Linked DNA regions of Homo sapiens: region 1 is linked to region 2. Evidence: fine-mapped expression QTL. A gene starts in region 2. The other region holds a variant in brackets. All regions are shown on one strand. Distances are between the middles of the regions.

What was found. PIP is the estimated chance that this variant, and not a neighbour inherited with it, causes the effect. A credible set is the group of variants that fine-mapping cannot tell apart.
Region 1: its variant is the best candidate, but not a certain one, in a credible set for the expression of ZNF582-DT in kidney cortex (GTEx, PIP 0.72).

The regions. Positions count from the first base shown.
Region 1 is chr19:55,786,568-55,803,278 of GRCh38, reverse strand. It overlaps NLRP11 (NLR family pyrin domain containing 11), which reads left to right. Exons shown (of 10, transcript NM_001394894.2): 5 at 1,540-1,707; 6 at 7,029-7,199; 7 at 10,808-10,978; 8 at 13,880-14,050; 9 at 14,302-14,472. Among named protein-coding and RNA genes, the nearest start is that of RFPL4AL1, 26 kb to the right of the region's middle. The variant C/T (reference allele first, on the strand shown) is at 8,344.
Region 2 is chr19:56,384,048-56,400,758 of GRCh38, reverse strand. It overlaps ZNF582-DT (ZNF582 divergent transcript), which reads right to left and starts at 7,083. Exons shown (of 2, transcript NR_037160.1): 1 at 6,706-7,083; 2 at 1,584-2,878. ZNF582 (zinc finger protein 582) reads left to right here and starts at 7,225. Exons shown (of 5, transcript NM_001320371.4): 1 at 7,225-7,539; 2 at 8,927-9,015; 3 at 10,258-10,384; 4 at 10,663-10,758; 5 at 15,575-16,711. The coding sequence starts at 9,007. It also overlaps the pseudogene SLC25A36P1. RefSeq lists an enhancer at 15,899-16,711.

The DNA.
Region 1 (16,711 bases), 600 kb after region 2:
GCCTCCCAGGTTCAAGTGCTTCTCCTGCCTCAGCCTCCCAAGTAGTTGAGACTACAGGCACCCGCCACCACGCCCAGCTAATTTTTGTGTTTTTAGTAGAGGCAGGGTTTCACTATGTTGGCCAGGCTGGTCTTGAACTCCTGACCTTGTGATCTGCCCATCTGAGTCTCCCAAAGTGCTGGGATTACAGGCATGAGTCACTGTGCCCAGCGCCTCCAAGTTTTTAATAGTTTTGCACTTCATTTTGTCTGTAATCCATCTTGAGTTGGTTTTTGTATGTGGTGTGAAGAAGGCATTCAGTTTCAGTCTTCTGCATATGACTAGCCAGTTACCCCAGCACCATTTATTGAAAAGGGAGTCTTTTCTCCACTGCTTGTCTTTGTCAGCTTTGTTGAAGATCAGACGGTTGTAGTTGTGTGGCCTCATTTCTGGGTTCTCTATTCTGTTCTGTTGGTCTATGTGTCTGTTTTTGTACCAGTACCATGCTGTTTTGGTTATCATAGCCCTATAGTATAGTTGGAAATCAGGTAGCGTGATGCCTCCAGCTTTGTTCTTTTTGCTTAGGATTGATTGTCTTGGGTATTGGGGCTCTTTTTTTGTTCTATATGAACTTTAAATAGTTCTTCTAGTTTCTGTGAAGAATGCCATTGGTAATTTCATAGGAATAGCATTGAATCTGTAAATTGCTTTGGGCAGTATGGCCATTTTAACAATATTGATTCTTCTCTCCATGAGCATGGAATGTTTTTTCCATTTGTTTGTGTCATCTGATCTCTTTGAGCAGTGTTTTGTAATTCTCCTTTTGATCTTTCACCTCTCTGGTTAGCTGTATTCCTAGGTATTCTTTGTGAGCAATTGTGGATAGAATTACATTTCCGATTTGGCTCTCAGCTTGGCTGTCGTTGGTGTATAGGAATGCTAGTGATTTTTGTACATTGATTTTATTTTTTTCTTTTTGTATCCTGAAACTTTTGCAGTTTATCAGCTGAAGATTTGGGGCTGAGACTATGGGGTTTTCTGGATATGGAATCATGTCATCTGCAAACAGTGATAGTTTGACTTCTTCTCTTCCTATTTGGATGCCATTTATTTCTTCCTCTTGCCTGATTGCTCTGGCTGGGACTGCTGAAACGGAGTAATTTACATGTGGTTGATTGTGTGGCTATTATCAGCCATCAGCATATTTTGTCTTTTGCTCTCAGTGTAGAAAAACATGGTTAAACTTGTGCATGTGGATGTATCTTAATATCTTTGTGCATGTGGATGTATTCTTAGTATCCGGCTTGTGGGTCCCACTTAAGAAAGGTCATGAGGTGAACACACCATAAAGACCCAGGGGATTACTTCAAAGTCAACAGGCTGACCTTGGAATTAGCAATAGTCTTCTGACCTGACTAGAAATTTAAGATCGAGAGCCATGTGTGAGGATGTAATCCACTGAGAATCTTTGTTACAGGATGAAGTGAGGCAGGCAGGAGAAATTGTGGAGAAGATGTTCAGACCTTCACTAGTGCTTTCCTGCTATTATGTCTTCCACAGGTTGTCCTATGTCTCGACTGCTTCTGGTTTTGAAGACTTACTCAAGGCTTTGGCTCGTAATCGGAGCCTGACATACCTGAGTATCAACTGTACGTCCATTTCCCTAAATATGTTTTCACTTCTGCATGACATCCTGCACGAGCCCACATGCCAAATAAGTCATCTGAGGTGAGTTGTTGCTCGGCTGAAAGCTCAGTGCATGTGAGGGGAATGCCTGGGTGTTGGTGGATAGAGGTGCCCCTTCAATAACACTACCTGCTCCTACCTTTTGATGTCACTCATTCCTCAATTTTTTTAGCACGTGGTTTGTTTCTTTCACCAACATTATTCCTGCCTTTTGATTTCAATTTCTACATTGATATTTCATATAACATGGCTTCTCCCTCCCTTGACTGATATTTCTCTAATGATCTAATTCCTCTGGTCATTCTGAAGTAGACTACTGGTCAAACCCTAAAACACTGTCTAGTGGAAATTATTCAAGCCACAAACTGAAATTTTCCAGTAGCCACATTAAAAAGTAAAAGGAAGCAAGTGAAACTAATTTTTTTTTTTTTTTTGAGATGGAGTTTCGCCCTTGTTGCCCAGGCTAGAGTGCAGTGGCACAGTCTCAGCTCACCGCAACCTCTGACTTCCAGGTTCAAGTGATTCTTTTGCCTCAGCCTCCCAAGTAGCTGGGATTTCAGGTATGTGCCACCATGCCCAGCTAATTTTGTATATTTAGTAGAGACAGGGTTTCTCCATGTTGGTCAGGCTTGTCTCAAACTCCCAACCTCAGGTGATCCACAGGCCTCAGCCTCCCAAAGTGCTGAGATTACAGGTGTGAGCCACTGTGCCCAGCCTTGAAACTAATTTTAACAGTATTTAACCCAGCATATCAAATTATATCCATATGTCATTAATGCAAAAAGCTATTGATGTGATTTTATATTCCCTTTTTTGTAAAAGGCTGCAGAACCCAGTATTTCACAGAGAACATCGCCGCTCGGGCACATTTTCATCAGAAATGTTTGACCTCCGTATTGATTTCATAAAATTTACAATTGAGAGAACTAATTCACATGCCCGTGTCCTAAACATACTTAAATCTTCCAATAATTTGGAATCAACCTTTAAATTTAAACTAGCCAAGCCTGGTAGCTCATGCCTATAATCCCAGCGCTTTGGGAGGCAGAGGATGTGGATCACTTGAGGTCAGGAATTCAAGAGTTCGAGACCAGCCTGGCCAACATAGTGAAACTCTACCTCTACTAAAAATACAAAAATTAGCCAGGCATGGTAGCAGGTGCCTGTAATCCCAGCTATGCGAGAGGGTGAAGCAAGATAATCGCTTGAACCCAGGAGGCAGATGTTGCAGTGAGCTGAGATGGCGCCGCTGCACGTTCCAGCCTGGGCAACAAGAGCAAAACTCCATCTCAATAAATAAATAAATGAATAATAAATTCCAATGTAAATGTAGTAAAACTAACAATCCAGTGCCTCAGTCATGCTAGCCACGCTTTGAGTGCTCAGTAGCTCTACTTGCTGGTGACTCAATATTGGATAATACCACTTGCTAGACTTCATCTCCAATAAGTACATTTCGCTTGTACTCTCAATTTCAAGTACCTCATGCTCTAACGGCACCTCCTGTATTCTCAAGCTGCTTTGTCTTGTAAGCAAATCTTCCCACCCTTTAATCCTACTGCGTCCTTCAGCCATTTGAGCAGCAGCTTCCCACCCTTTCACCCCCTTCATCCCTTTCTTTTTGTTTTTGTTTTCATTTTTGTTTTGAGACAGAGTTTCACTCTTTTTGCCCTGGCTGGAGTGCAGTGGTGTGATCTCAGCTCACTAAAACCTCCGCCTCCCGGGTTTAAGCGATTCTCCTGCCTCAGCCTCCCGAGTAGCTGGCATTACAAGAGCTTGCCACCACGTATGGCTAATTTTTGTGTTTTTAGTAGAGATGGGGTTTCACCATGTTGGCCAGGCTGGTCTCCCACCCACCTCAGCCTCCCAAAGTGCTGGAAGCCACTGCACCCAGCCCCTCACTTTCTTTCTGACATAGTTCAAATTCCATGGTTCTTGAGAGTCATTGCCTTCCACCTCACTCAGCATCCCTTCTCCCTATCACATTCTCCCAGCTAAATCCCAACTCTGTTGCCACTTTGTAGTTAGCCTCTCCCCTACCTCAATGCCCCCCTCCCCAAACTCCTTTCATCTTGGAACACATTTTCCTCTTGGCCTTTGGTTTTTCCCAAACCTTGATTATTCCTCCTCAGTCATCTTTACTTGTTTTTCATCTTCCTGGACTCTTATCTTTGGGATATTTCCAAGTGGTTCTAAATGTCTTTTCTATACCCCTTCTATGAGTTCTTATTCATGGCATTAAGTAGCCTCTATGTGATGAAGACTCTTAGGTACTTATTTACAAACATTTCTCCTGGTTTCAGACTCAGTGAAGTATTTGTAGAGATATCAACTTTGATATTTATTTATGAGACAAAGTCTTGCTGTCACCTAGGCTGGAGTCCAGTGGGGTGATCTCGGCTCACTTCAACCTCTGCCTCCCGGGTTCAAGCAATTTTCATGCCTCACCCTCCCAAGTAGCTGGGACCACAGGGGTACACCACCACACCCAGCTAACTTTTATATTTTTGGTAGAGACAGGGTTTTGCCATGTCAGCTAGGCTGGTCTCAAACTCCTGACCTCACGTGATCTGCCCACCTCAGCCTCTTACTTTGATATTTAAATAGGCATTTCAAATACAGATTTTCTTGTGGCCTGGCTTAGACAAATTTTCTAGGTCTGTTGTTAGAGTGGATCCATCTGACTCCTTCCTGCTTCCTTTACTGCTAAGCATGATAGACCAACCCATCTCCCACCTATCTGCAGTACTTCAGCATCTTCCTACCTGTCCACACCTTTGCTTGCTACATGGAAAAGAGTGTAGAAGGGCAACTTTCATCTAGTTTGGATTGTTTTGTTTTCCGGTGTGTGTGTGTGTGTGAGTGTGTGTGTGTGTGTTTGAAGCAAAACATAGCTTTATTTTTTGATATATCAGTTTTACTACAAGGGTAGACTTAACTCTTTTTAGTTTACTTTTAGCTTCAGGGATGCGTGTTCAGGTTTGTTACACAGGTAAACTTGTGTCATGGGAGTTAGTGCAGATTATTTCATCACCCACGTACTAAGCCTAGTACCTCATAGATATTTTTATTTTTTCTGATCCTATCCTCTGAATCTCAGCCCTCAAGTCGGCCCCAGTGTGTATTGTTCCCCTCTATGTGTCCATGTGTTCTCATCATTTAGCTCCCATCTGTAAGTGAGAACATGTGGTATTTGGTTTTCTGTCCTTATGTTAGTTTGCTAAGGATAATGGCAATCTAAGTCAGATCTTGTGACTCTGTCCTTTTAATCTTCAGGCCCTCAACGGCTTTCACTTTCATTCCAAATAGAATACACAGGCCAACGCGACGGCTCACGCCTGGAATCCCAACACTTTGGGAGGCCGAGGCGGGCAGATCACCTGAGGTAAGGCGTTCCAGACAGCCTGACCAACATGGCGAAACCTCGTCTCTACTAAAAATGCAAAATTATCCAAGTATGATGGCGCATGCCTGTAATCCCAGCTACTCGGGAGTCTCAGGCAGGAGAATCACTTGAACCTGGGAGGCGGAGGTTGCGGTGAGCCGAGATCACACCATTGCACTCCACCAGCCTGGGTGACAAGGGCAAAACTCCATCTCAAAAAAAAAAAAAATAATAATAATATAGAATACACCATTTCACGCTGGGTGGCCCTGGCTAACCCTCTCCCCATCTCCTGTTTATGTACCGTGCTGCGGCTGCACTGTTTGTTGTAGATGTTTAAAACACCAAACCTGCTCCTGCTTCTGACTCTTTCCACTCATTTCCTCTGACAGAAATTCCCTTGTCCTAGAGATTCAGAGCTTGCCCTCTTCTCTCAAGTTTCTGTTAAAATTCTTCTACCTTATTTAAGTCAGAGCTTCTGACTCTTCTGTCCTCTAATCTTCAAACCCTCAAGGGCTTCCATTTCATTCAAAATAGAATACACAGGCCAAGTACGATGGCTCAGTGAGAGTCTTCGCTCAGTGCCTGCCCCATAAGGAAGTAGAATACATCCTTTTCTTTCTCTATGACCTACTCTGATTTACTTTCTATAAAGAACTGATCATCTACTAGGCACATGATACATTCAGCCCTGTCTTTACAATGCTAGAATTCCATCGTATTTCTTCCAGTTTTCTGCTGTATCCCAGGAACTTCATACAATGCCTGAAAATAACAATATTTGTTAGTTGAAAGATGGTTATTATTCAAAATCCTCATTGAAGAAGAGAATATTGAGTGACAAGTTGAAGAAAGTGAGACAGCAAACCATGCAGCTATCTGGGGAAAGATCACTTATTTTTATTCTACTTATTTTATTTATTTTTTTTTAGAGATGCGTCTTGCTCAGTTGTCCAGGCTGAAGTGCATTGGTATGATCATAGCTCACTGCAGCCTCGAACTCCTGAGTTCAAGTGATCCGCCCACCTCAGTCTCCCAAGTAGCTGGGACTATAGTCGTGCACCACCACTCCTGGATAATTTAAGGAAAAAAACTTTTTTTAAAAAATAGGGTCCCATGGGGAAAATCACTAAGTAGAGATAAGGGTACTAGACACTAAAGCAAAAATATGCTTGTGGACTTGAGGGAGAGTGAGGAGATCAGGGAGGATGGTACAGAATGAGTAATGAATAGAAAGTTAGACCGGACACAGTGGCTCATGCCTGTAATCGCAGCACTTTGGGAGGCCGAGGCGGGTGGATCCCCTGAGGCCGGGAGTTCAAGACCAGCCTGGCCAACATGGTGAAACCTGGTGTCTACTAAAAATACAAACATTAGCCGGGTGTGGTAACGCATGCCTGTAATCCCAGCTACTCGGGAGGCCGAGGCAGGAGAATCGCTTAAAAACCCGGGAGGCAGAGGTTGCAGTGAGCCGAGATCGCACCATTGCACTCCAGCCTGGGCGACAGAGCAAGACTCCATCTCAAAAAAAAAAAGAAAATAGAGATAGTTGAGAGCCAGAGCATGTGGGGCACCCAAGGCTATGCAGAAAAAACATCAGAAGTCCTTGTAAATGTGATGGTAAGTTGAGGGTCTTGATCAGATTTATAAATGTGATCGTACCCACATCCCATGGTCAGGTGGGATGCTTGATACCTGACTTACCGTTCTGAACCATCACCCTGGAAACCACATGGAGATGAATGCAAAAGAGGAAGGAACTGCCTGCTCACAGCCCTTCGTGAATCTGTAACCTTGCCCAAATTTGAACTCTGAGGAGTGGCATAGGGAGAAGAAAGGTTAGAAGCAAAGGGATCTATTTATTTCCAAGTAGACATCATCGCACTTGGTTAGGTCTCTCTTTTTTTTTTTTTTTAATTTAAAAGAGGGGATAGCTTAAACGCGGGAGCCTCTTTTCATTTCTGAATTCCTCTTACAGCTTGATGAAATGTGATTTGCGAGCCAGCGAATGTGAAGAAATCGCCTCTCTCCTCATCAGTGGCGGGAGTCTGAGAAAACTGACCTTATCCAGCAATCCGCTGAGGAGCGACGGGATGAACATACTGTGTGATGCCTTGCTTCATCCCAACTGCACTCTTATATCACTGGTGTAAGTTGGCTTAGACGAGCTCACCACGTAGAAGCTCAGACTGACTTGAATATCTAAGCACATGATCAAAGAGCAGTGGTGGGGAAAGGGACAGCAAAGCAAAGCAGCCGAAAGCACAGTCTTTGGAGTTCAGTAGGTCTGGGTTAATACTCTGGGTTGACAGCTGATTTGCGAAACGTTGGCAAAAATGTTTCTGGATTTTTTTTCAACTTGTATTTCTCAATCTGGACAGTGGAGTCATAACATGACCAAACATACATCTTTGGAGATAAGAGTTAAAAATGGTGGTCACGGCCGGACGCGGTGGCTCACGCCTGTAATTCCAGTACTTTGGGAGGCCGAGGCAGGCGGATCACAAGGTCAGGAGTTCAAGACCAGCCTGGCCAACACAGTGAAACCCTGTCTCTACTAAAAATACAAAAATTAGCCGGGCGTGGTGGCGGGTACCTGTAGTCCCAGCTGCTTGAGAGGCTGAGGCAAGAGACTTGCTTGAACCCGGGAGGCGGAGGTTGCAGTGAACCGAGATTGTGCCACTGCACTCCAGCCTGGGTGACAGAGCGAGGCTCTGTCTCAAAAAAAATAAAAAATAAAAAATGGTGGTCACAACATTCTAAACACAGCACCTAGGCCATAGCAACTGACTTTCTAAGAGCAGGGAACCTATATTGTTCTCACAGTGAACACGTGAACTGGGTGTCGTGTAGGATGAGATGTGACTGAGAACACAAAGACGAAAGCAAAGGAAAGGTTTGGTGCTAGATTGCCTTGAAATAGGATTTTTTCCCCTGAGTCTCCTTTCAAGAAGGTGGAAGACGGGCTCTCCCTGTATGTAACCGACTGTGGGTTACTCGTAGGTAAGCTCTGTCTGCTCTGGGAAAGTGGCTAGAAAGGCAGACTTCCGGAAGGTTGGGGCATGGCAAACACGATGAAAGATGGCAAAAAAGTGGCAAAAGTGAGGCATAAAGGTACAAAAATGAAGGGCGGAGATCTGTAAAACATGGTCAGAAAACAAAACAGTAAGTAGCTCGGTGTATTTAAGGACATGATTCCCCGTTCACAATTCCAAATTCCAAAAAGACAAAAGAATGCAGTAGGTCATCTTGTTTTTTTGTTTCGCCCATTTTTGGCTCCCTTTAGCTCCTTT[C/T]GCCCCCTTTTTAGGACTTGCTAGATTCCAAAACATAATACAAACTGATATAATATTCTTTATATTCTTTATATTTTCTGTAAAAAATACTTGTTTGATTGCAGGATAACACCAGAAACTCCTGTTCATATTATGTAATATCGCATTATGTATGCTTTTATTTATTTTTTTTTTTTGAGACGGAGTCTCGCTGTATTGCCCAGGCTGGAGTGCGGTGGCGCGATCTCGGCTCACTGCAAGCTCCGCCTCCCGGGTTCACGCCATTCTCCTGCCTCAGCCTCCCGAGTAGCTGGGACCACAGGCACCCGCCACCACGCCTGGCTAATTTTTTGTATTTTTAGTAGAGACGGGGTTTCACCGTGTCAGCCAGGATGGTCTCGATCTCCTGACCTCGTGATCCACCCACTTCAGCCTCCCAAGGTGCTGGGATTACAGATGTGAGCCACTGTGTCCAGCCATGTCTTTAAAATCTCAAATTGTTCTAAGATCCATGTGGCCCCAGATAAATCCAGTAAGTAATTGTCAATATGAGCTAATTTTGTTGTAAAAGAAGGTCTCATGAAAAAAGGGACAGACCATTGGTTCAATAATCAGACTCCAAATAGATATTTTTTTCATCTCATATCTACAAGTTTTTTGTTTCCTGCTAGATTTTTTCTTTTTTTCTTTTCCCACTGGTTCCAGGTATAATTTACATATCAGAAAATTCATCCACTTAAGGTACACATTCGATGTTTTTTATGCATATTTAGAGTTGTACAACACTACAATATAATTTTAGAACATTTTTATCACCTTAGATTGTTGGCATGGAGTTTTTCGTAGTTCATACCTGTATTTAAAATAATCCAGATATACTAAGCAAAAAATATTTGTTTTGGTAACTTATTTTAAATAGGCAAGGAATTTCTAAGCCTAAGAACGTGAAAGAAATCACAGTAGTCTGAGGAAAACACCTGTAAAAGGCCAAATTTATGGTCGTGACCAAATCTGACAGCTGGAAAATAGTATGCAAATGAGTTGATAGTGCTGGTTTCTACGAGGACAACAGGGAACTTCTCTAGCTCATTCTTAGTCTTAACTTTTACTTGTACATATAATTTAAAATAAGCACGCATTAGTATACAAAGGAAAACCTAGCCCATTTCACGTGTCAAACCCAAATTAAAATAACTACATATACATTTTCCGATCATTTTAAAGCACAAAAATCATTCTAAGCTTGCAGCTGTGCAAAAGCAGGGAGGGGCCAGGTTTGGTGTGCTGCCAGCCTCTGGTCTAGTGTACCCTTTTCCCATACCAGAGCCAAGATTCAGTATTTCCAACCAATAAATTGGTTGTTTTCAACTTTTTTTTTTTTTTTTTTTTTTTTTTTTTTTGGAGACAGTCACCCAGGCTGGAGTGCAGTGGTGCAATCTCGGCTCACTTCAACCTCCACCTCTCCGGTTCAGGCAGTTCTCCTGCCTCAGCCTCCCAAGTAGTTGGGACTACAGGTGCACACCACTATGCCGGCTAATTTTTGTATTTTTAGCAGAGACGGGGTTTCACCATGTTGACCAGGCTAGTCTCGAAGTCCTGAACTCAGGTGATCTTCCTGTCTCCCCCTCCCAAGGTGCCAGGATTACAGGTGTGAACCACCGTGCCCGGCCTATTTCCAACTTTTTAACCCCTTCCCTGTTTAGGAAAAAAGTGCAGCTCACTGCCAGTGCAGTATTCCCAGGGCAAACAGAAAACGGGTTAAAAAAAATAGAGATTCGGCCGGGTGTGGTGGCTCACGCCTATAATTCCGGCACTTTGGGAGGCCAAGGCAGGCGGATCACTTGAGCCCAGGAGTTCAAGACCAGCCTGGGCAACACAGTGAGACCCCCATCTCTATTTTTAAAAATTATTTAAAAATAAATAATGGAAAAAAAAATAGAGGCTGGAAATCCAGATTAGGATTGAGTAAACTTCCACATATTGGCAACGAGCTAAACCTGGACAGACAAAACGGGATACCACAAAATGGGCTAACAACAGGGCTTCTGGTGTGCCGTCTGTCTCCACTTTTTCCCAGTTTAAAAAAATCTTCAACAGTTCCTGTATTCACTTATAAATAATAAAGTAACTCTTTCAAAGTGAGTTTTTAAACTGAAAATCCTAGGATTCAATTTAGCCAAATATACTTTATCAAACGATGGGAGAAACCAAGTTCCAGAAGTAACGTCTATAAGATTATTCCGTTAGTAGAAGTTGGAGTTAGATTTTTCTCATGCCCTGTTCTGCATCATCCATTCTGTATTTCAGCCTCTGCACTATTTGGGGTACTTCTAATCTCCTTTTCCAAATAAGAAAGTCATTGGTAGAGATTTGGGGCAATGGCAGTAGAAGGCATCGAGGCGCCCGTGGGCGTGGGGTGGGTGGTCTCAGGTGCTCCCCTCTCTGGTGCTCACACTGTCACTGACTCACTCTTCTCTGTGTGCAGGTTAGTCTTCTGCTGTCTCACTGAAAATTGCTGCAGCGCCCTTGGAAGAGTGCTTCTGTTCAGCCCAACTCTAAGACAACTAGACCTGTGTGTGAATCGCTTAAAAAATTACGGAGTGTTGCATGTGACGTTTCCCTTGCTGTTTCCAACCTGTCAGTTAGAGGAGCTTCAGTAAGTCTCCCACAGTTGTCCTGGATGACTGTGTTTCTACTGCATGAGGGCTTGGGTGGTGGGGTTGGTGGCAGGGATAAGATTCCAGTGATGGCATCATGGGTGATAGGGGTACGGGAGCATGGGCTCCCCAGAATAGGCGACATGAAAGCACGGTAAGATTCATTGGCAAAACCTTTTAGCTCAGAAGGAGCAGAGTTCACAAAATCCCTCAGATCCTTATCACATGGAGAAGGGTGCCTGGGCCGGACCCCTCCCCCTGCCCCGGGTGGACATAGCATGGGAAAATGCCACAGGAGAAGGGACCCAAAGATCCTGCCCTGGCCTGGCTTGCAATTTCTGAGGCAGTGAATATCTTTTGGGGTTGGCGATCATGGGGGCATCTTTCTGTTGGGAAATAGCTTTATTGGAAAAGGGATGCATTGGGGGAGGTGGCCATATCCAAGCCACTGGTACCTACCAAAGACATCTAATTTAGGCATGATGCAATGGCCTCTGATTGAACTTCCAGGAAAAAATATGTAACAAGCCACTACAGTTTTTTGAGTGTGCCTCATCAATGATGCTGAATAATCAAACTTCTCGTATTTTCTCAGAAGTAGTGATTCTCCCACTTGCCTGAAAAAAAAATTGTTTAAAAAATGCCTTGGAGTTGTTTAATTTGAACTCTCTTGAAAATGTTCTATTTCAAATGCCTTTTTTTGGGCTCAGAAATATAAGAAACTGATAACCTAAAAGCATCTCCTGTTCATAAAATAGCAACACTATGGCTTGTGAGCTCCTGAACTGAAGTGCTTACTGGACTGTATAAGAATATGCTCAGCAGTATGGTATCTTATCTTTATTTCTGTCTTGTAGTTATAAGTTAAATCCATGTTACCATTGTAATTTGGTACAAATGGGCAGGTAAAATAGGAAATTGTAGGGATATCTTTTCTTTCTAGAATCTTGCTTCCTTTGACAAGGCAGTTTAGGGAAAGCTGCCTTGGGGAAAATAATATAACTCACCCTCCCTTTTTTTCATGGCCCTTAGTTTGTACTTAGTAGGTTGAGACAAATTCACTCATACTGTAGAATAGGGGTTAGAAACCTTTTTCTATAACAGGCTAGACAGTAAATACTCTGGGCTTTGTGGGCCATAATGTCCCTGTCATAACTATTTTTAAGTCTCCCATAGCTGAAGAGAGGCCATGAAAAATGTCAAATGGGTGTGGCTATGTTCCAATAAAACTTTATAAATAAAAAACAAAGTTGTCTAGATTTGGCTCTCAGACCATAGTTTGAACCTTGCTGTAGACTCCAAACACGTTCTTTTGTCATCCTTCAAGAATTGTCTTAAGTATAACTGTCCATTTTGTCTATCACCTACCCAAAGCTGGATAGGGACCTCCTCTATGAGCTCCCATAGGGCACATGGAAGCCCACATTATTGATCACCCTTTATTTTCCTCTAAGTTTGAAAGCATGGATGTGGTTGGCACATCATTAACTCTCTATATATTTTACCGACAGGGTTTTGCTATATTGCCCGGGCCAGTCTCAGACTGCTGGGCTCAAGTGATCCTTCTGTCTCAGCCTCCTGAGTAGCTAGGACTACAGGAATGCACCACCCAACTTTTATAACTACTAAATGAAAAATAGGATCTTCTGGAATCTGCTTTAATATGATTATTCAGTATTTAATATACATTCTATAACAAAGAATATATGTTAAGTGTCAGGCACTCCTCTAGGTGGCTGGGATACATCAGTGAACAGAATAAATATCCATGTATTAATGGATCTTGTATTGGCACTGGGGGAGATAGGAAATAAAACATAAGAAACTTATGTATTGTTAGACCAGAGGTCAGCAAACTGTATCACCCAGGCGCCAAATCTGGCCCTCTGCCTGGTTTTATAAAGATCTTACTGGAACACAGCCATTCATCTACATGTGTTTCATGCATGCATTTGTGCTGCAGTGGCAAAACTGAGTAGTTGTGACAGAGGCACCATGGCCGGTGAAGCCTAAACTATTATCTGGCCCCTTATAGAGAAAGGCCGTCAACTCCTGTATCAGGCAGTAAAAACTGCTATGGAAACTTTTTTAATTCAATCCTAAGGGCACGTAATCAGGAGTGCTGAGGGTAGGGTATGGCCATCTCTAAGCAAGGTCAATGTCACCTCATTGACAAGGGGACATTTGAGCAAAGACTTGGAGAAGGTTGTGGATGGAGTCATACAGATCACTAGAGTGGCGCTTGCAAGCAGAATGAATAGTCGGTGCAGAGCTGTTAACAGAGAAACAGCCAACTGTGCTCGAGAATCAACACGAAGGCCAACGTGGTGAGGCAATGAAGTAGGATTGTAGGAGTAGATAATGGGGGAGACGTGAATGGAAAAACAAGGTGGCAGGTCACATGGGAGAACACGGACAATCGTGAGTACGTTGCTTGCTTTGAGAAAGGACCATTTGGTAAAATCCTCTTTATAGAAAGAATGTATTTAGCCCTTCTCGATGTTGGATTTTGACATGAGTACTGAAAGGCAGAAACGTGAATGTCAGAGGAGGTTGCCTAACATAATTCTTCAGAATCCAAGCTCAGTATTGCAACGGTGTAGGTTGAATGTATGTGGCTTCCCGGGACAAAAATGCTTAAAACATTCTGGCCTCAGTTTCCTTGTTTGTAAAACCAGGATAAGAGCCCTGTGATCATTGTGAGTTTAATGTGCATTAGGAGTTTTGAACAATGCCTGGTATGTTGTAAGTGACCTGTAGATGTTAACACTGCTCTTGTTTCTGTAAGCAGTCCCTTATTCATGAATGTCACAAGACGGGTCCAAGAATGCTTAACACTCTGTGAAATAAATCTTTGGAGACAGGTGGTCATGACTCTAGCTCATGTTTCTGTTTTGCAGTCTGTCTGGCTGTTTCTTTAGCAGCGATATCTGTCAATATATTGCCATAGTTATTGCTACTAATGAAAAACTGAGGAGCCTGGAGATTGGGAGCAACAAAATAGAAGATGCAGGAATGCAGCTGCTATGTGGTGGTTTGAGACATCCCAACTGCATGTTGGTGAATATTGGGTAGGTGCCTGGTGGAGAAAGATCCCTGCCTTTAGCTAGCAACAGCTGAAGAAAAGCACAAGAGGAAGTGGATTGGGAAATACAATACCTCGGACATAATAGTCTAGTGTTTGAAATGGGACTCTTATTGCACAGTCAGTTCTTTTGCCCAAAACTTGGAGGGATCTAGTAGATGTCCAGTTCTCACCCATCTCATCTGCCATTTTTCCTCAAGGATTTGGCCCCACCTTACCTGTGCATCTTCGTTGCAGGCTAGAAGAGTGCATGTTAACCAGTGCCTGCTGTCGATCTCTTGCCTCTGTTCTTACCACCAACAAAACACTAGAAAGACTCAACTTGCTTCAAAATCACTTGGGCAATGATGGAGTTGCAAAACTTCTTGAGAGCTTGATCAGCCCAGATTGTGTACTTAAGGTAGTTGGGTAAGTTGCTTATTTTCCTTGGTGATGGGGAAAATTCTTTTTTTTTTTTTTTTTTTTTTTTTTTTGAGAGACAGAGTCTCACTCTGTTGCCCAGGCTGGAGTGCAGTGGCGTGATCTTGGCTCATTGCAACATCAGCCTCCCAGCTTCAAGCGATTCTCCTTCCTCAGCCTCCTGAGTAGCTGGGACTACAGGCACCCACCACCACACCTGGCTAATTTTTTCTATTTTTAGTAGAGACGGGGTTTCACCATGTTGGCCAGGGTGGTCTCAATCTCCTGACCTCATGATCTGTCCACCTTGGCCTCCCGAAGTGCTGGGATTATAGGCGTGAGCCACCGCGCCTGGCTGTGATGGGGAAAATTCTGTGTTGAGATGGTCTAGGACCTATAAGATGATGATGAGAAACCCTCTTGCCAGTTTCCAATACAAAAAAAAAAAAAAAGTCTTTCCTCTTGGGAGATTGAAAATGTATGCCTCGTTCTTAAAGCAGAGGATGTACTCAATGGTGAGTAAAAGATGACAGTTGATATTATACTTGACGTAGACCAAAAAGGGTTCTACGAATATTTTCTATTTTCTTTCCTCCATTTGGATGTACCCCTCATTACGAGAGAATAAAAATAGGCAATTCTCAGTCTATTTCATGTTTCCAAATCCATTAGATTCCTCTCATAAAAGCAAAAGTTCTCTTCCTTTCTGTGTTACCTAACTGTTGCCAAGTATGTTACCACCAACTTGGATTCAATGACACACTATCTTACAGTCTATGTGAGTGTCAGGACTCCAATCCCAGCTTAGTTGGTCGTCCTTGAGATCTCTCATGAGGCTGCAGCCAAGATGTCATCCAGGGCTAGGGTCAAATCTGAAGGTATGTCTGGGAAAGGAAAAATCAGCCTGCTTCTAAGATCATGTGGTTGTTGGCAGAATTCAGTTCCTGTAGTGCTGTTGGGCTAAGGGTCTTAGTACCTTGAGAGCTGTTGGCTGGAAGAGGCCCTCAGTTATCAGCAAGAAACACTGAAAAGACTTGCTCTCCAACTCTCAAACAGCAACTGTTTGTCAGGTTTTTCAAGGCAATAGAGTTTGTTAGCAAGGCAGAAGTAGCAATTCTATGTAGGCTCACCAAAAAAGTGACATCTCACCATATTTGCCTATTGGATAGAAGCAAATTTGGCCAGGTGCTGTGGTTCATGCCTGTAATTCCAGCACTTTGGAAGGCTAAGGCGGGTGGATCACTTGAGGTCGGAAGTTTGAGACCAGCCTGGCCAACATGGTGAAAACCCATTTCTACTAAAAATACAAAAGTTAGCCGGGCGTAGTGATGCATACCTGTAATCCCAGCTACTCGGGAGGCTGAGGCACGAGAATCACTTGAACCTGGGAGGCGGAGTTTGCAGTGAGCCGAGATCGCACCATTGCACTCCAGCCTGGGTGACAGAGCAAGACTCCATCTCAAAGGAAGCAAATCACAGGTCTTGCTTATGCTAGAGGCAAAGATGATACAAGAGTGTGATTGATACAAGGTGAGGATTGTTAGAAGCCATTTAGAAGCTGCCTATCAGCTTCCATTCACACTGTCACGTGTGTAGAAAGCTCTGGCAATATCTAGCATTCTGTTTCTACCTGCCTTATTTAAAGGAAAATCATATTCAGGTTACTGAGCATTCAATTAGAGACTAAGTATAAGCATCCGGATGACCCATTAATAAAATACAGGAGGGGCAACTCATTTCCCACTCATGTCCAATTTTTCTCAAATGGAAAATGGTGATAATTATCTCAGAACTCTTAAAGATTAAATGAGATCACAGACTCTATGCTGGAGACCCTACTATGAGTTGTTTTCCCTTGTCATCTCTAAGTGATAATTTTTTCATAAATATGGATATTGAGTCAAACTTTCAGATGCATAGAAAAACCCATAAACATTACAAATTTTCCAAATTGCTTATTCTCTTTATTTTTCCTCCCCAGGGCTCTTCTCACCTTCAAATGTATAATGTATTTATTCTATTATCTAATTCCTTCCACTAGAACATGAGCTCCATGATGCCAGGGATATTTTTCCTTCAGTATTATAGGTGCTCAAAAAAAACTAAACTGCAGAAATGACCATATTTCAGGTTATAAAGGTATTTGTGCCTACATGCTAATTGGGACACTCACATGCAGAGAGGGCACAAAATAAGTGGCTGAATCCTCCTCTTTGATTTGGAGAAAGAAACATGAGCATGGGCTGCG
Region 2 (16,711 bases):
TTAGAAATAAATTTTCGGTGCCACAAAAGAAATAGCATTCGAACAGAAATTTTCTCAGCAAGGCAATTTTACTTCTACAGAAGGGTGCATCTTGTGGATGGAACAATGGTGAGAGCACACCTGAACAAGGGAGGGGAAGGGGTTCTTATCCCTGACACAGGTAGCCCCTACTGTTGCATCGTTCCCCTATTGGCTAGGGTTGGACTGCACAGTCTAAGCTAATTCCGATTGGCTATTTTAAAGACAGCAGGGGTTAAGAGCTACAGTGGTGGGGTGAGCAGTTGTGGCAGGAAAGACGGTTACGGAATAGGTGACTAAAGGTGACTTAGGTTAGAGCGGGTGACCAGGGGTCTCAGGATGGAGCAAGTGACCAGGAGAACAGATGTGAACTACTGATCAGAACTGGCAGGGAGGTTGTTTACTGAAACTAGGGGCAAGGAGATGAAGAGAATGAGGAAGTTAAACTTTAAAATGGAAAACAAAGAACTGAACATACTGACACAGATTCTTTGAGGAGAAACTTAGAACTCACTGTATTTAACAAAATTATGATTGATAGCTTCCCCTCACTTTTTCAAACCAGACAAGCCTTGTTTAAAATAAGGCATCAGTAAACGTCCAGGTTTTTGCAGTCTTTTCGACATTTCACAAATGTGTGAAGAGAGTAGGCATCTTTATGAAACCACCTTTGCAAAAACTGTATCAGTGAGAAAAATTATTATAGTAAACTGAGCTAACCCACCTATCTTGCCTTTCCCTTAATTATTCCTGGGCTATAGGGCTGAGCTAACTTTGGAAGACATTTACGCTATAGTTTAAATAACAGGCTTTGCCCAAAACTCAATTGTTTTTGTAAAGCTAATGGGAGGCCATCAGTCTGGGAGGAGAGGAGTCTGGGTCCTGCTAAGGTGGCAGCATTATTCAACTGTCAGCCATTATTCCAAAGGTTATAGGATATGCAACTTTCCCAATTACTACTACAAATGACATCACTACTGTAGAACCTCAGATTGGCCTTTTGAGATATCTTTTCAGGTTTTTTCATGTCTGACACCCATGGCTCCACCTGGACCTGATGGTTCCACTTGGACTAACCAACCCAGTTCCTGTGGCACCACCCAGAAGCAATTCACCCCACACAAGGAGAGCTTTGACCCCCTATGATTTCATCTCCAGCCCAACGAATCAGCAGCAAGCACCTGTTATCTGGCCACTCCCACCCCTTCCCCCAAAGTGACTTTGAAAAACCTCTAAGATAAGAGCTTTGGATTAGATGATTTGAGTACGAACTCCATTTCCCATGTGGCGTGGCCAGCCTCATGTCTATTAACCTCTTTCTCTACTACAATGCCATGGTCTTTCTTTATGCAGTGGGCAGGAAGAACCCCTTGGGCGGTGGTAACATTTTTTATTTTTAGCCGTTATCTCTTAAGCTTCTCCTTTTGGCACAACCTTCTACAAAGCTTGGTAAGAGTCACTAAGTAAACTTTGATTTGCTTAAAAACCACATTTATTCTTTGTTTCAGGTGAGCAGCAACTGTTTGGGCTGGTGGCACAGAGGTAAAAGAACTTACCAAGACAGCTGTGGGTGAAGAAAGGCAGATTTATTAAAGACAGTATCAAAGTATGTTATCAGGGAGCAACAGGCAGAATCAGTGGAAGAGGAGCTGACTGCAAGGAAACAAAGGCTTGCTGGAGATTTTATAGGATGGTTCCTGGGCTGATTGATAATGCCAAGGCAGCAGGGAGCTGACCTGCATTCTTCTGTCACCCGAGGTGTTTGATGATAAGTGGATGCGTGCGTTTGATGATAAGCAGGAAGTTTGTGAGTTACGTTCATTATTTGCTCGGCAGGGCTGTATGTCCTGGGTCATAAAGAAAAGCAAGCCTATAGCTTATCTGCTTCCTTTTTTTGTTTATATATCCTGGACCATGAAGAAAATGCAGATCTATAGCTTATTTGCTTTATCTCTTTGCTTTCCCCTGGTCCCACCAGCCTGACTCCTTTTCCCTACGTACGAATCCACATTCTTCCTAAACAGGTAATCAGCAGACGTATGTCTACCTAGCACACCCAAGTTTAACATAATTATCTAAATGCAAAATCTTGAGGAATAAAGATAAAAAACCCTCTAGCAGGCACAGCGGCTCATGCCTGTAATCCCAAGTGACATAGGAGTTAAAAAGAAATTATTTAGGCAGATAGTGAGGGTAAGGAAATCCCCGGTAAGGTTTTCCTTTTAATGAAAAGCAGCCCCCAAGTCATTTCTTTTCTAACAAACAGCAGCCTGAAAAATCAAGCTGCAGACATAGATAAGCAAGCTGGAAGTTTGCACGGGTGAATGCCAGCAGCTGTGCCAATAGGAAAAAGCTACCTGGGGGCCAGGCATGTCCAACATCGCAGCTCCATCTTCCCTTTTCTTTGTCAACCACGTGTACAGCAAGGAACATACAACATGGCCCGGTCAGACAGGGACTCCATCTGCATAATAAAAGATTAGGGTGGGGCAGCCAGCTTCTGATTGGCACACCTGGTCCAACCAATCTTTGGGGCCTACGTAAATCAGACACCACCTCCTGAAGCCAGTCTATAAACCCCGTGCCCTTCGCCACGGACTGGAAGTCCTACTTGGGAGCCCTTTTCTCTCTGCAGGAGCTAGAGCTATTCTCTTTTCTCTTTCGCCTATTAAACCTCCGCTCTTAAACTCACTTCTTGTGTGTCCACGTCCTTGATTCCCTTGGCGTGAGACAACGAACCTCAGGTATTTACCCCAGACAATGATGCAGCTTCACCATCATTTTGCAAGGCTGAAGCAAGACGATCACTTGAGCTCCGGAGTTCAAGACCAGCCTGGGCAATACAGTGAGGCTCCCATCTCTACAGAAAAAAAAAAAGAAAAGAAAAATTAGCTGGTGTGGTGGTACGCACCTGTGTTCTCAGCTACTTGGGAGGCTGAGGTAGGAGGATCGCTTAAGCCCAGGAAGTTGAGGCTGCAGTAAGCCGTTTGTGCCACTGTGGCAAGCCAGATCTCACAAAAACTGAACAGGCAGGCCTCCATAAGAACTGTTCTAGCATTGACTAAATGGTTAGGTTAAATATTAAAGGCTGAGAGAGCCAGCGCCCTAACACAAAGGCTGATGATTTGAAGCATGACAAAATAATGAAGGAATGGTCACACTCCTCATACCAGGATCCATTTAGGATTAAACAAGTTTTATTGGGGGTCTAAAGGAACTCTCCAGACCTCCATAACTTAGTAGGAGACAAGATAAGGTAATTACCTTTGGCACTTGGACCCATCTAGAGTAAGTAAAATCACTGAGGCTCCAGAGGAATGTCCCCAAGGTCTATAACTCAGACCTTAGTTATAGATTAGAAGAAATTAATCACTTGTGTCTTTAGATGAATGCACACTAACATGTAGACATATAGCTTAGAAGGTAGATAAGCACTGGAAAACTTTGTAATTTTGAGTTGGTCTGGCAATATTTTTCTGGCCCTCTCCCTGTACCCGGTTACAGAAATAAAACTCTCTTCTTTCACAGTTCATCAGCATCTTGTTATAGGGCTGCGAGAATAAGCAGCCTGACCTTCAGTTCAGTCCAGGAACACCACTGCACACCAGCTTGGGTGACAGAGTGAGACCTTGTCTCTTAAAAAAAAAAGTCCTCAGAGAGAGGCCACATGTATTTTGTCCTCAGTTGTCACAAGGAAGATGCAATACATTTATTTTTCTCCTGGATTAGTACTGCAGAAAAGCCTTTTATCCTTTTTCTTTTTTGGCTATGGATGTCCAGTTGCTCCAGCACTGTTTGTTGAAAAGGTTATACTTCCTCCGTGGAAATTTATTATTATTATAATGCACAGATTTTAGGTCAGAAAAATTGGGGGAGGTGCCCAAGGTCACTCAGGGAGTAAGTAGCTAAGATTGGGTTAGAACCCACTTTGTTGTGTGATTCCTTGCTTGGATTACTATGCACAACAGAATATGGCCCACCTCCCCACAGTTGATCTCATTCAAGTGATAATGGGTGATCCTGAAACAGAAGGAATCTGGCAGAAGCACGGATATGGCTGGGGATAACAGGAGAGGGAGCTGCTGGAGTAACTCTGTGGGCGGCAAGCCACCCAGGTGCCAAGGCAAGAGACCGAGGACACGAGCTGTTCCAGTATAATAAAATATAAAACAAGAATAGTTATACCAGATATAGATCTTAGATATGATTATATATGAATATCATTAATCATTAGTTGGTAGCAATTACTCTTTATTCCAAATTATAATAATCCTCACTCTATAATCATAACCTGGGAAAAGCCAGGCCATATAGAGATAGGAGCTGAGGAGACATAGTGAGAAGTGACCAGAAGACAAGAGTGCGAGCCTTCTGTTATGCCCAGACAGGGCCACCAGAGGGCTCCTTGGTCTAGCGGTGATGCCAGCATCTGGGAAGATGCCCGTTGCCAAGCGGACCGTGGTCTAGCAGTAGTGTTAGTGTCAAGGAAAAACACCTGCTACGTAGCGGACCGGGAAAGGGAGTCTCCCTTTCCCCGGGGGAGTTTAGAGAAGACTCTACTCCTCCACCACTTGTGGAGGGCCTCAGGCCCACCTGCAGTTATCCGGAGGCCTAACCGTCTCCCTGTGATGCTGTGCTTCAGTGGTCACGCTCCTAGTCCACCTTCATGTTCCATCCTGTACACCTGGCTCTGCCGTTTAGTTAGCAGTAGCAAACCAGTGAAAGTACTAAGTCTCTAATAAGTAGAAATAATGGTGTAAGCTCTCTCTCTCTTTCTCCTCTCTCTCTCTGCCTCGGCTGCCAGGCAGGAAAGGGCCCCCTGTCCAGTGGACATGTGACCCATGTGGCCTTACCTATCATTGGAGATGGCTCACACTCCTTATCCTGCCCCTTTGTCTTGTATCCAATAAATATCAGCGCAGCCTGGCATTCGGGGCCACTACCAGTCTCCGCGTCTTGGTGGTAGTGGTCCCCTGGGCCCAGCTGTCTTTTCTTTTATCTCTGTCTTGCGTCTTTATTTCTACAATCTCTCGTCTCCGCACACGGGGAGAAACCAACCGACCCTGTGGGGCTGGACCCTACAAACTCTGCATGTGCTTTGGCACAGGAATGTGTACTGGGAAGTGGCTGACAAAAGACCTATGGATTCCATGGAATGGAGAGGCTAGCTCAGAGCATTCTCATACTCTTAAAAGGAAGAAACTGGAAGCCACCCTCTAAGACGACCCTGAATGATCCCTGCCTCCTAGTACTTATACTCTTGTGTAGCCTCCACCTACTTAGACTCACAGCTGATTTTGTGACCAAGAGTATAATGGTGTATGACTTCAGAGGCTTGGTTCAGAGTCAGAAGTGGCCATTTCATCATCCTCTAAATTTCTCTTTGGCAGATTAATGAATGTGAGAAAGTAAAAATGGTATAGAAGAAAGTTAGCCTGAGAGATGGCTGGCTTTGTACCTGTTTGGTCTTTTTCCTTCCTTTCCTCCATAAGCAAATACTGACGCATGTACATATAGACACACTCAACACAGTGGGATGTTAAAGGGAAACTAGAGCCACTCGCCCCTTCCCAAGATCAGAGAACATAGGAAAGATGATGACTTTTTGCATCTACCCTCTCCTCTTGAACTCGCAACACTGTCTTGAACCACAAATAAGGTCAAGTAGGATAAATCTACAACTGTCTCCTCAACTGTCCGCTCACAAGTGTGAAATTCAACCATCCTTGCTGAAGTTGTCTTTTAATATCAGTAATCAGCAATAACCAACCTCTGAGCTTTGCTTATATTATTAAATCATTTTATTTGACCCTCAGGACAAAGCTGCAAGCCCAGCATTACATTCTTCCTTTTATGGACAAAAAAAAAAAAACAAAACAAAACCGAGATAGGCACGAAGAAACTAATAAATGGCTGAAATGCTATTTGAATCCACATCTGTCTAATTCTAAAAGTGTGCTTTCCACCACATCACCGCACCTACAAGGAAAATGCAGCCTCTACCCTCTCCTGAAGAATGTGTAAAGAGGCAATATGGTGTGTTTTGGAAAAAGCATCTTTGCAGAAAGAAAGCATTAGCTTCAGTCATATTAGCATCCTTATCCAGCAGCAGTAGCATTATTTTACATATCAGTTACTCCTCCCCAACAACTCAATGAATTAGATGCCACAATCATCCTCACTTTCAAATGTGGAGACCGAGGCACATCTCTAAGACTGGAGTTCAGGCATTCTGGCTCCAGTCTTAGAGATGGTTAAGGGTTCACACTCTTAACCATTTATTACACCATAGAGCTCACCAGGTTTGAGGGAAACAGGATCAAATCAAAAGAGTCACTCAGGACTCCAGTCCTCACTCAAGGACAAACTGTTCCACCTCGGACAGGGAGAGTTTCCGCATTCTGAGACCCAGCATAACAGGTCCTGACCGGCATCTGGCACTCGGACTCCCAATCATACTGGATCACACTGGCTCGGGATGTGTAAAGTCCAGGGCTTCTCACATTTGATGACACCAAAGCCGCCTAAAAACAAGAGAGAATTAACAACTACCTACGGCGGTCTGATATTTGCCCAAGAGATGCCGCCCCATAAAACTCCTTTACATCTTTATAACGTTTTTATTTTGCGTTCTCCTTCATAACCCACATTTAACTCACCATAGATGTAATGTTTAAAATTAGTTACCAGATAAACTCTTACGCTTCCAAACTTTAAGGTTCCTTCGAAACCTTCTGGTAAAACTGTTGTTCCACGGAAATGGGAACGTAACGGATGAGGCAATCTTCCACAGCCGCACACAGTTGTGTATCCACCGCTAAACGGTCCCAGTCATACATTCAACGACCCACGCGGAGTCAGAAGCTACCACCACACACTGTCAAAATCACGCACACACAGTGACGGCCCCTTGCCCACTCGGTCACTCGCCCACAATCTCTCGCTAGAGAATCACACGCAGATAGCACACCCAGCACCACAGACCCCAGGAAGCAACCCAGGGACTCGAACACACGAACAGCACTCCTCCGCGCACTGCGCAGGCACGCCTGCGTCCGGCTCACCCTGAAACATCGCGAGATCCGGCTTCAAGGCCGGGCTGCTGCCTTTACGCCTAAAGACTATGTTTCCCGGAAGACACTGCGGCGCCGGCCCTATCATGGCGCAGCATCGGTGTGCTTTGTGCGTCTGCGCCATCTTCCGGCTGCGCACGGCGAATCCACCGGTACCGTGGTGGAAGCGCGCCCTGGGCTGCCGGGGGCGCGGCCGCGGTGGCACTTGGACCCGAGGAGGCGGCAGGTGAGAGGTTCCGGAGCTTTCCAGGCGCTCTGGGGTCCAGCAGGAGCTGGTGCCCGGGCCGGTTGGGTCTCAGGCCTGAGAAGAACGCAGACGTCTCGCCTCATCGTCGCTCTGTGGCTTTACCGGCGTGAGACTACATTTCCCGCCGGCCCTCGCGGCGTGCGCTTTCTGGCGCCCCCTTTCTGCTTCCAGCCTCATAGCCCAGGTGCATGGACCCCTTAGGTGGGTGCGCAGGGGTCTCCGACCCCCTGAAATTGCGGATGTTTTGCATTCACTGTTATGCGTGCCTTTTTTTTTTTTTAATCTGAGAGGAAATCTTGTTTCATGAGGTTCTCAGAGAGTTACAAGACCCCAGAAGACTTAGAACCGCTAGTTTAGAAAAACTTATACTTGGGAACATTTTATATGTTCAAATTCTATGTCCAGCAATGGGGAAACACTTGAGTGGATCACAGGCCATCCTTTGTAAATAGGATATCGTGCAGTTAATACAAATAATGCTTATAAAAGTGGTCATAATAAGGAAAAGCTGCCTATTACATCATATTAAGCAACATTCATAATTATTTCACTTACACGTTACTTAGAACCAAATGTTTGTAATGCAGTAGGCACCTTATATACTCCTTTACAGAGTACTTCTTGTTTAACAGTGAGCTCAAGAACTGGTTAAATGACAACACTGCGAATACTTGGGTGTTTTTTCTTCCAATTTTTTTGTTTTGTTTTGTTTTTAGCCTGTGTGTTAGTGAGTTTGACTTCTTTTTGCTGAATGTTCTCAAAGGATTCAGTAGTTAATATCTTTGCTTGTCAGTTTTTGATAGTCATTTTTGATAGTCACTTGGCATCCCATTATATGGCTGTGCCAAAAATGATTCAACCTCTTGGCTACTTGTGGACTTGCCTACTTACGTACTAATTTTCAGTTCTCCTATTTAGCAAATATTATTGGACATGCAGCTTTGTGCACTGCTGTGTCTCTATGGAAGGACACATTTATGTGCTGATAATGGAGCACTGGGCGTGCTGTGTGTAATTTGTCTCTTACTGTTCCTTCCAACTCTATCCCATTTGTTGATGCAAGGCATGCTCCATGAAGTGGCATGCACAAAGCCTCAGTTTGGGCTGTAGAGCTTTTTGTATATTTGGCGGTTGGGAAAAGAGCCAGGTAGACTTTCAAAGGTGTTATATTTGCTGCAGGAGAGAGTTAAATGGCCTAGTCCTGGAAAGGCTTTATTCTAGGCTGGGGCTATGCAAATGATGCAGGCCTTCTATGCTCCCTGGCTTGAGGGAAGCCCTCCTTGTCCTTGAGGTAACATGTGGGTCTCAGTCACTAGAACAGCCCTCAGCATCCCTGTCTTAGACTTGCATTTGCAGCAAAACAGAACCACTGGATGTTTAGGGGAAATGGGAGGGAAAGGACCACTGGTTCCCCTTTGCCTTGCAGCAGCTAAAGCTGGTTTCCTGGGGTTGGGTGAGGATCCCTTTGCCTCCCCCTCCTTCTCATTTTCTTGGTGGGCAGAGGGCAAGCAGGTGGGGACTTGTAACTTGGCATTCTAGGAACTGTGAGGCAAGCCTAGCCTCTCATGTTTGCTCTTTCCTCCCCCAGCTCTACCGTCGCAGGACTCTGCCCTTCCCCAAGAGAGGAACCAGAAGGAGGACCTATCAGCCCTTGAAATTCTAAAAGTCATGTCCCTTGTGAGTTTTTAAATCCCATAAATATTTGCTTTCCTTATCTTGAAACTTTCCACCTGGGTTCCATCCAGAAATTTGGTTCTCAGACTTTCCCATTTTAGGGAATAAAAGGACCAGGCAGGAGTCTCCTCTCCCATTGTCCTCTCCCCTCTGACAAATGCCCACAGATTTATTCTCTATAGCATTCTGCATCTCCTGATGGTTTTCGTCTGCTAGGAGGAGAAACTCATTTCCCTGTATGAAATGAGAGCATCCTTTGTAAGAACTGAAGTTTGAAGAGATGGAATGAATGCTTAGGAGCAATCACATATAGAAAAGCAGGGGAGGTGGTGTTGGTTGGTTTCAGTTTCAGCGCATGGTACAGTGTCCTGCTTTGGGAATGATTAATGATTGGATATGTAATTGAGGTTTGGCTGGGAATCCATCAAAAATTTGATGCCAGAATTAAAGTCTAGTTTGACGTTGGACAGAGCATTTGAATCTGGGACATCCTCCATTAGTTTCTTTAGCTTAAGAGGAAGAAAAGTACAGAGCTGAGGATGGTGAGCGATGTAGCAAGTGAGATGATCATCTAGGTGGGTGAGTGGTCAGGGCTTGGAAAAGCCTTAGAGATCTGATCCAACCTCGGGATCCAAAATAAGAGGATGTTTGAGTCAGTTGTTTCACTTGATAGAAAATTGTGCACTCAATAAAAGTTATCTCCATGGTTTTTCCCATGAAGAAAAATGCTTGTGTTATGTTCCAACATAATGATGAACTTTCATCTCCAAGAAATTCTTGACTTACATGAAAATCCTGTATCTAAGATAGAAAACATGTTTCCATAATTTTAAAAAATAAAATATTTGGGGAAAATCCATCAGAAATATTTTTTGTTGTTATTGTTATTCCAAAAGATAGAAGTGATAGGTCTCACCTTGAGAATTTATTGTATGCCAAGTATAGAGTGGGCAGTGTGCTTTATTACACTGTTTCTTAACAATAAGGAAAACTCCATTTAGCTTGATTTTAATTTTCATCCCAGACCTGTACACAGAGCATTGATTTGCAGTTAAAAGGAATGTTTGAGAACAATTTGATCATTCTGTTTTACTCATCCCCATTTCTTCTGTCACCTTTCACATTCAGTCCCACCCTTCTTGTTCAACAAAACAACCCCCCCTCCCGCAAAGACCTGCCCCATCTCCTTTCATCCCACTGTGAACCATTGAAATACATATATATCATACATGCCTGTCATTCCAGGGGTCAGAATTGTTCAGGGATGTGGCCATAGTCTTCTCCCAAGAAGAATGGCAGTGGTTGGCACCTGCTCAGAGGGATTTGTACAGAGACGTGATGTTGGAGACCTACAGCAACCTGGTCTCACTGGGTAAGGTGATCTCGTCTGTTAGTTTGGAGGTTATCCTTGGGCATGTTCCTTCCTGGTCAGTTTTTGGGTGCTTTTCAGTCTTATGATTGGTTGGTCATTTTTGAGGGGTTAAAGGGCGGCGCTGTCGGCTGAAGCTGCATCCCCCTACCCCCAGGCAACTGTCCCATCTTCCTCTGGCACTTCCTGCAACTGCCTCTCCTGCTTGATGACCAGGTCCTGGATCTGAATTCTGGGGCCCCCACACCATAACCAGGTGGCATGTTTCTTCTCATCTCCAGGTCTTGCCGTTTCCAAACCTGATGTGATCTCCTTCCTAGAGCAAGGCAAAGAGCCCTGGATGGTGGAGAGAGTGGTGTCTGGAGGCCTGTGTCCAGGTGAGTGAGGTATCATTGGGAAGGGAGCAGCCACTGCAGGTATCAGGTCCGCTGGAAGTGGCCCTTTGTCTTAGAAGATCTTCCCTGCAGGTTGCTACCTTCAAAGCTTATGTCTTACGTGTTGTTTTCCTCAGCTCGTCAGCAGCATTTGACAAAGGTGGCTGCTCCTTCCTCCTGAAACACTTTAAAAATTCAACCTGGATTATAGGGCTAGACTGAGTACAAATATGGTGGTTCCTAAGGAAAGTATTTTGTCTTTGGAAAGATGTCTGTATCTTTTGACCATTTTTCTTTTTTTATTAATTTTAATTTTAATATTTAAAATTTTTTTTAACTTCAGGAGTATAAGTGCAGGTTTGTTAAATAGGTAAACTTGTGTCATGGGGGTTTGTTTACAGATTATTTCATCACCCAGGTATTAAGCCTAGTACTCATTAGTTACTGTTCCTGATTCTCTCCCTCCGCCCAACCTTCCATTCTCTGAAAGGCCCATGTGTGTTGTCCCGCTCTGTGTGTCCATGTGTCCTCATTTAGCTCCCACTTATAAGTGAGAACATGCAGTATTTGGTTTTCCGTTCCTGTGTTAGTTTGCTTAGGATAATGGCTTCCAGCTCCATCCATGTCCCTGCAAAGGACATGATCTTGTCCTTTGACCATTTTTCTAAAGGAATTTGTATCGGTTTGTTTGAATTCTGGAGTCAGTTAACAAGTACTTATTAAGCTTTTATTATGCACCATGGAATATGCCACAGTATACATTGATGAGGCAGGTGGACATTATCCTTGCTTTCATGGAACTTACACTGCAGTGGGAAAATAGACATGAAATCATACACACTGGACATGAGCTAATATGTGAAAGAAAAAGAACAGGTTCAGTCAGGGTGCATGGTAGGGCCAATGGCCTCTTCAAGGATAAGGCATTTCAGCTGAGACATGGAAGGTGTGATGTAGCTGGGGAATACCAGTTGTAGCCAATGAGTGTGAAGGACCTGAGCAGGGAGCCCTTGGTACCTCTGAGATAATGGATGGCCCTTGTGGCTGAGGTCAGTGAGCAAAGGGAGGAACACAGAGATACACTAGGGGCCGGGCATGGTGGCTCATGCTTATAATCCCAGCACTTTGGGAGGCTGAGGCGGCCAAATCACTTGACCAGTCTGGCCAACATGGTGAAACCTCGTCCCGACTAAAATCACAAAAATTAGCCGGGTGTGGTGGCACGTGCCTATAATCCCAGCTACTTGGGAGGCTGAAGCAGGAGAATCGCTTGAACACGGGAGGCGGAGATTGCAGTGATCCGAGATCGAACCACTGCGCTCCAGCTGGGGCAACAGAGAGAGACTCTGTCTCAAAAAGAAAAAAAAAGATACGCTAGGAAAGGCAACCACGTTATGAAGTTTGGGTTCTGCACTGTGGGCAGAGGGAAAGCACTGTAGAAATAGAGGCAAGCCATGATTTTATGGTCCACCTGGAGAGGATATAAATATTGTGCTTCTCACAAATTATTCACCTGCTAGTTTCAGAAGTCATTGATAGTTTTCTCTTGGATCAGATATGATTAATAGTTACAAAATAGTGATTTTTAAAAAAACTTTATTCTTATTTATTAGATCACATACTCCTGTAAAGAAGAGCTTTCTCCCTTTCACCATTTGTTTCTTCATTTATATCATATGGATTAATAGTAGGTGGCATATTTTTTCTCATTTCCAGGTCAGAATAAAATAAATCTTGTTTTATCCTGTAACAGATTATTACCCATTATCATTATTTATCACAACGTTCATAGTTTTCCAGACTTGCCCAGTGACACCCTTTCAAACTGGCTCCTGGGTTCTTTGGACATAATCCCCCCCCCCTTTTTTTATAAGCACGTTTTTAACTTTTTTAGTTTCAACAATTCAGTAAAAGCTAGTTAACATAAATACAGAAGAAGTCCACACAATTGACATCCGTGTACATAAATGCAAGAATGCCAAACCTCACATGAACCAAAAAGTATCAGCTCTTACAATGTTGACTATTTAGCTATGACTAGTAGGTCATAAATCTTCGCATAAGCAAGGGTACACATTCAAATGTTTTTTAAAACTAAGAATAAAACAATTTTATGTTTCTAAAAGGAGAAGCATAAAAGTCAATCTGTCGAAGAACATAAGGATGTGATAGAAAAGAGATTTGCGTGGGCACAAAGTTAATACACTGTGTTAATACTTTTACATATTAAAATCCCTCTGCAGCCAGGCGTAATAACTCATGCCTGTAGTCCCAGCTACTCAGAAGGCTGACAGAGGAGAATCACCTGAGCCTAGGAGTTTGAGGTTGTAGTATAATATGATTGTGCCTCTGCACTCCAGCCTGGGCAACAGAATGAGACCCCATCTCCCCTGCAAAAAAGAAAGAGAAAGAGAAATACTTTGGAGGCAAACTTTATATAGAACGTTTGTATATAGTTTTTTTTTAAGTCATCAGTGTCATACTTAAACTAAAATGCAGATTGTGTTTTTGTCTCCAAACTGATTGTAATACTTTTGAGTCCAATCAAAACACCTCAGAAACATCCAGTTACTGTTGATTACAATAAATGTGACATGCTGACAGAATTTAAGAAGGTACAGTTTTTCACTGGTGAGAGCAGTAAAAGCTTGGTAATTTTCAATAATGTTGGGATCACTACAGTGAATAGATCTGCAGAACAACATATCTAAAACCCAGACAAATGTTAGGAATACTGGTTCTGTTGAATAAATGACCAATGTTTTTATAGAAATACGTAACATAGAATTCCCTCCTGCTCTTTCACCCTCAATAAATGCTATAAAGTGCATTCACAAAGAGCCATATTAAGATAAAGCTACTGCACAAAATACAGCACTCATATATACTGAAATGAGTAGTATCACACTGGAGTTTAATTGTGCACATTTTATATACCAGTATAGCAACATCCTTAGCCAGAAGTCTCAACAGAATTATCATGAACATAAACGTTTAAGGGTTATATACATATATCAATTTAAAGTATGAAAAGGTGCATTTGAACTTCATGGCAACATTTAAAAATGATATCCTTGTTAGCACATCACCTTGAATCTATGATGTATGATTCAGCAAATTAGGACAGAATCAAATTCTCAGCAAAAAGTACTTTGAGGCTGGGGATGGTGGCTCACGCCTGTAATCCCAGCACTTTGGGAGGCCAAGGCAGGCGGATTGCTTGAGCCCAGGAGTTTGAGACCAGCCTGGGCAATATGGCGAAACCCCATCTTTACAAAAAAGCACAAAAATTAGCTGAGCATGGTGGTGCCCACCTGTAGTCAAGCTATATCTGAGTCTCTTTAAGTCAACTGGGGTTGGTTGCTATAAGTACAGTAAAACCTGCCACTGTAGCTGAAATAATGTACCAGGTAGAATCACAGTCCATTATAGCATTCAGCTTTTTCATGCAGTTTGAATAATCAGCAAAGTATGTTGCTCTAGAAGGACCCACCCTCAATCAACTGGCCTAATCCTCTAAACAAGGAAAAAAGCCCTTCTTTTTCCAAGGTCACCTTTAAGAAATGAAAAGGTTCAGGTAAATGCATGACATTTAAGAAATTTAAGAAATGTCATTCAGTTGATAATGGGCTTCAGCCATGGCGTTCAACTAAACTTCAGATATAAAAAACACCATGGTGTTCAGCTAAACTTCAGATATAAAAAGCTTCACAGAGGAAGACAGCAGCCATGTCATTCTAACTTCTAGCGGACACATGAGAATAGCTGCCACTGTACCAGCATATTCCTCTGGTTCATTCTCCTGCATGTCCTCCAGGCACTGAGGCAGGTTGCAGATCCAACCACACACTTCCAACACCACTTTTATTTTTATTTTTTAAAACTGTGGTAAAATACAAGATTTACCGTGCTCACCATTTTCAAGTGTACAGTTCAGTAGTGTTAAGTACATTCACACTGTTGTACAACCATCATCACCGTCCATCTCCGGAACTCTTTTCATCTTGAAATCCCCATCATCTTTTTAAAATTCACTCTTTTGGGGGCATAATTTATGGTCAATAAAATGCATTTTTAAAATGTGCTATTAATGAGTGTTGACAAATTTATACACCCACATAACCATCACCTCAATCAAGATAGCGAACATTTCCATCAACCCAAAAAGTTCCCTTGTGCTCCCTCCTGCACAGTCCGTCAAACCAATGATTTGCTTTGGTTTCTGTCACTCTATATTTGTCTTTTCTAGAGTCTCACAGAAACATTTACTGTCTTAAAAAATATTGTTCAATAGTGATTCTGACCCACACCAACTCTTTTTTTTTTTTTTTTAAAGTCTCCCTCTGTCACCCAAGTTGGAGTGCATTGGCGTGATCATAGCTCTCTACAGCCTCTAACTCCTGGGCTTAAGCAGTCTTCTTTTCTCAGCTGGGACTACAGGCATGTGCCACTGCAGCTGGCTAATTTTTAAAAATTATTTTGTAGACATGGGGTCTTGCTGTGTTGCTGAAGCTGGTCTCAAACTCCTGGCCTCAAGTGATTCTCCCTTCTTGGCTTCCCAAAGCACTGGGATTACAGGCATGAGCCACCATGCCCAGCCCCACACTAACATTTTAGAATCACTTTTATAACCTCTCTTATTGCCTCCCTCATCTCATGTATGTTATTTTCCTTTCACTGTTCTACTTGTCCATTTTATAATTGCTTAGCTACATTCAAGAGTTAATAGGCATTGAGTCTAAACCCTCCAGTTCTTATTTTAGTTCCTTTATCTGGAAAAAAAAAGAAGCCAAACATATTCGCTTTTTTTCATTCTTAGTATTGGAGTCCAGATATGATACCAAGGAATTATTTCCAAAGCAGCATGTTTATGAAGTCGAATCACCCCAATGGGAGATAATGGAAAGCCTTACAAGTTATGGTCTTGAGTGTTCAAGTTTCCAAGATGATTGGGAATGCAGAAACCAGTTTGACAGACAACAGGGAAATCCAGACAGACATTTCCATCAGATGATCATCAGACATGAAGAAATGCCCACTTTTGACCAGCATGCATCCCTTACTTTTTATCAGAAAATTCATACTAGAGAAAAACCTTTTGGGTATAATAAATGTAGAAAAGACTTCTGGCAAAAGGAACTCCTTATTAATCATCAAGGAATTTATACTAATGAGAAACCCTATAAATGTAAGGAATGTGGGAAGGCCTTTAAATATGGCTCACGACTAATTCAACATGAGAATATTCATTCTGGTAAGAAACCATATGAATGTAAGGAATGTGGAAAGGCCTTCAATTCTGGTTCAAATTTTATACAACATCAGAGAGTTCATACTGGTGAGAAACCGTATGAATGTAAAGATTGTGAGAAGGCCTTTAGTCGAAGCTCACAGTTGATTGAACATCAGCGAACTCACACAGGCGAGAAACCCTATCAGTGTAAGGAATGTGGCAAGGCCTTCAATCGGATCTCACATCTTAAAGTACATTATAGAATTCATACTGGTGAAAAACCCTATGCATGCAAGGAATGTGGGAAAACCTTTAGTCATCGTTCTCAGTTGATTCAACATCAGACTGTTCATACTGGCAGGAAACTCTATGAATGTAAGGAATGTGGGAAGGCTTTTAATCAAGGCTCAACTCTTATACGACATCAGAGAATTCATACCGGTGAGAAACCCTATGAGTGCAAAGTATGTGGAAAGGCCTTTAGAGTGAGCTCACAACTCAAGCAACATCAGAGAATTCACACTGGAGAGAAACCCTACCAATGTAAGGTATGTGGTAGGGCCTTCAAACGGGTCTCACATCTTACTGTACATTACAGAATTCATACAGGTGAAAAGCCATATGAATGTAAGGAATGTGGGAAGGCTTTTAGTCATTGCTCACAATTGATTCATCATCAGGTTATTCACACTGAGAAAAAGCCCTATGAATATAAGGAATGTG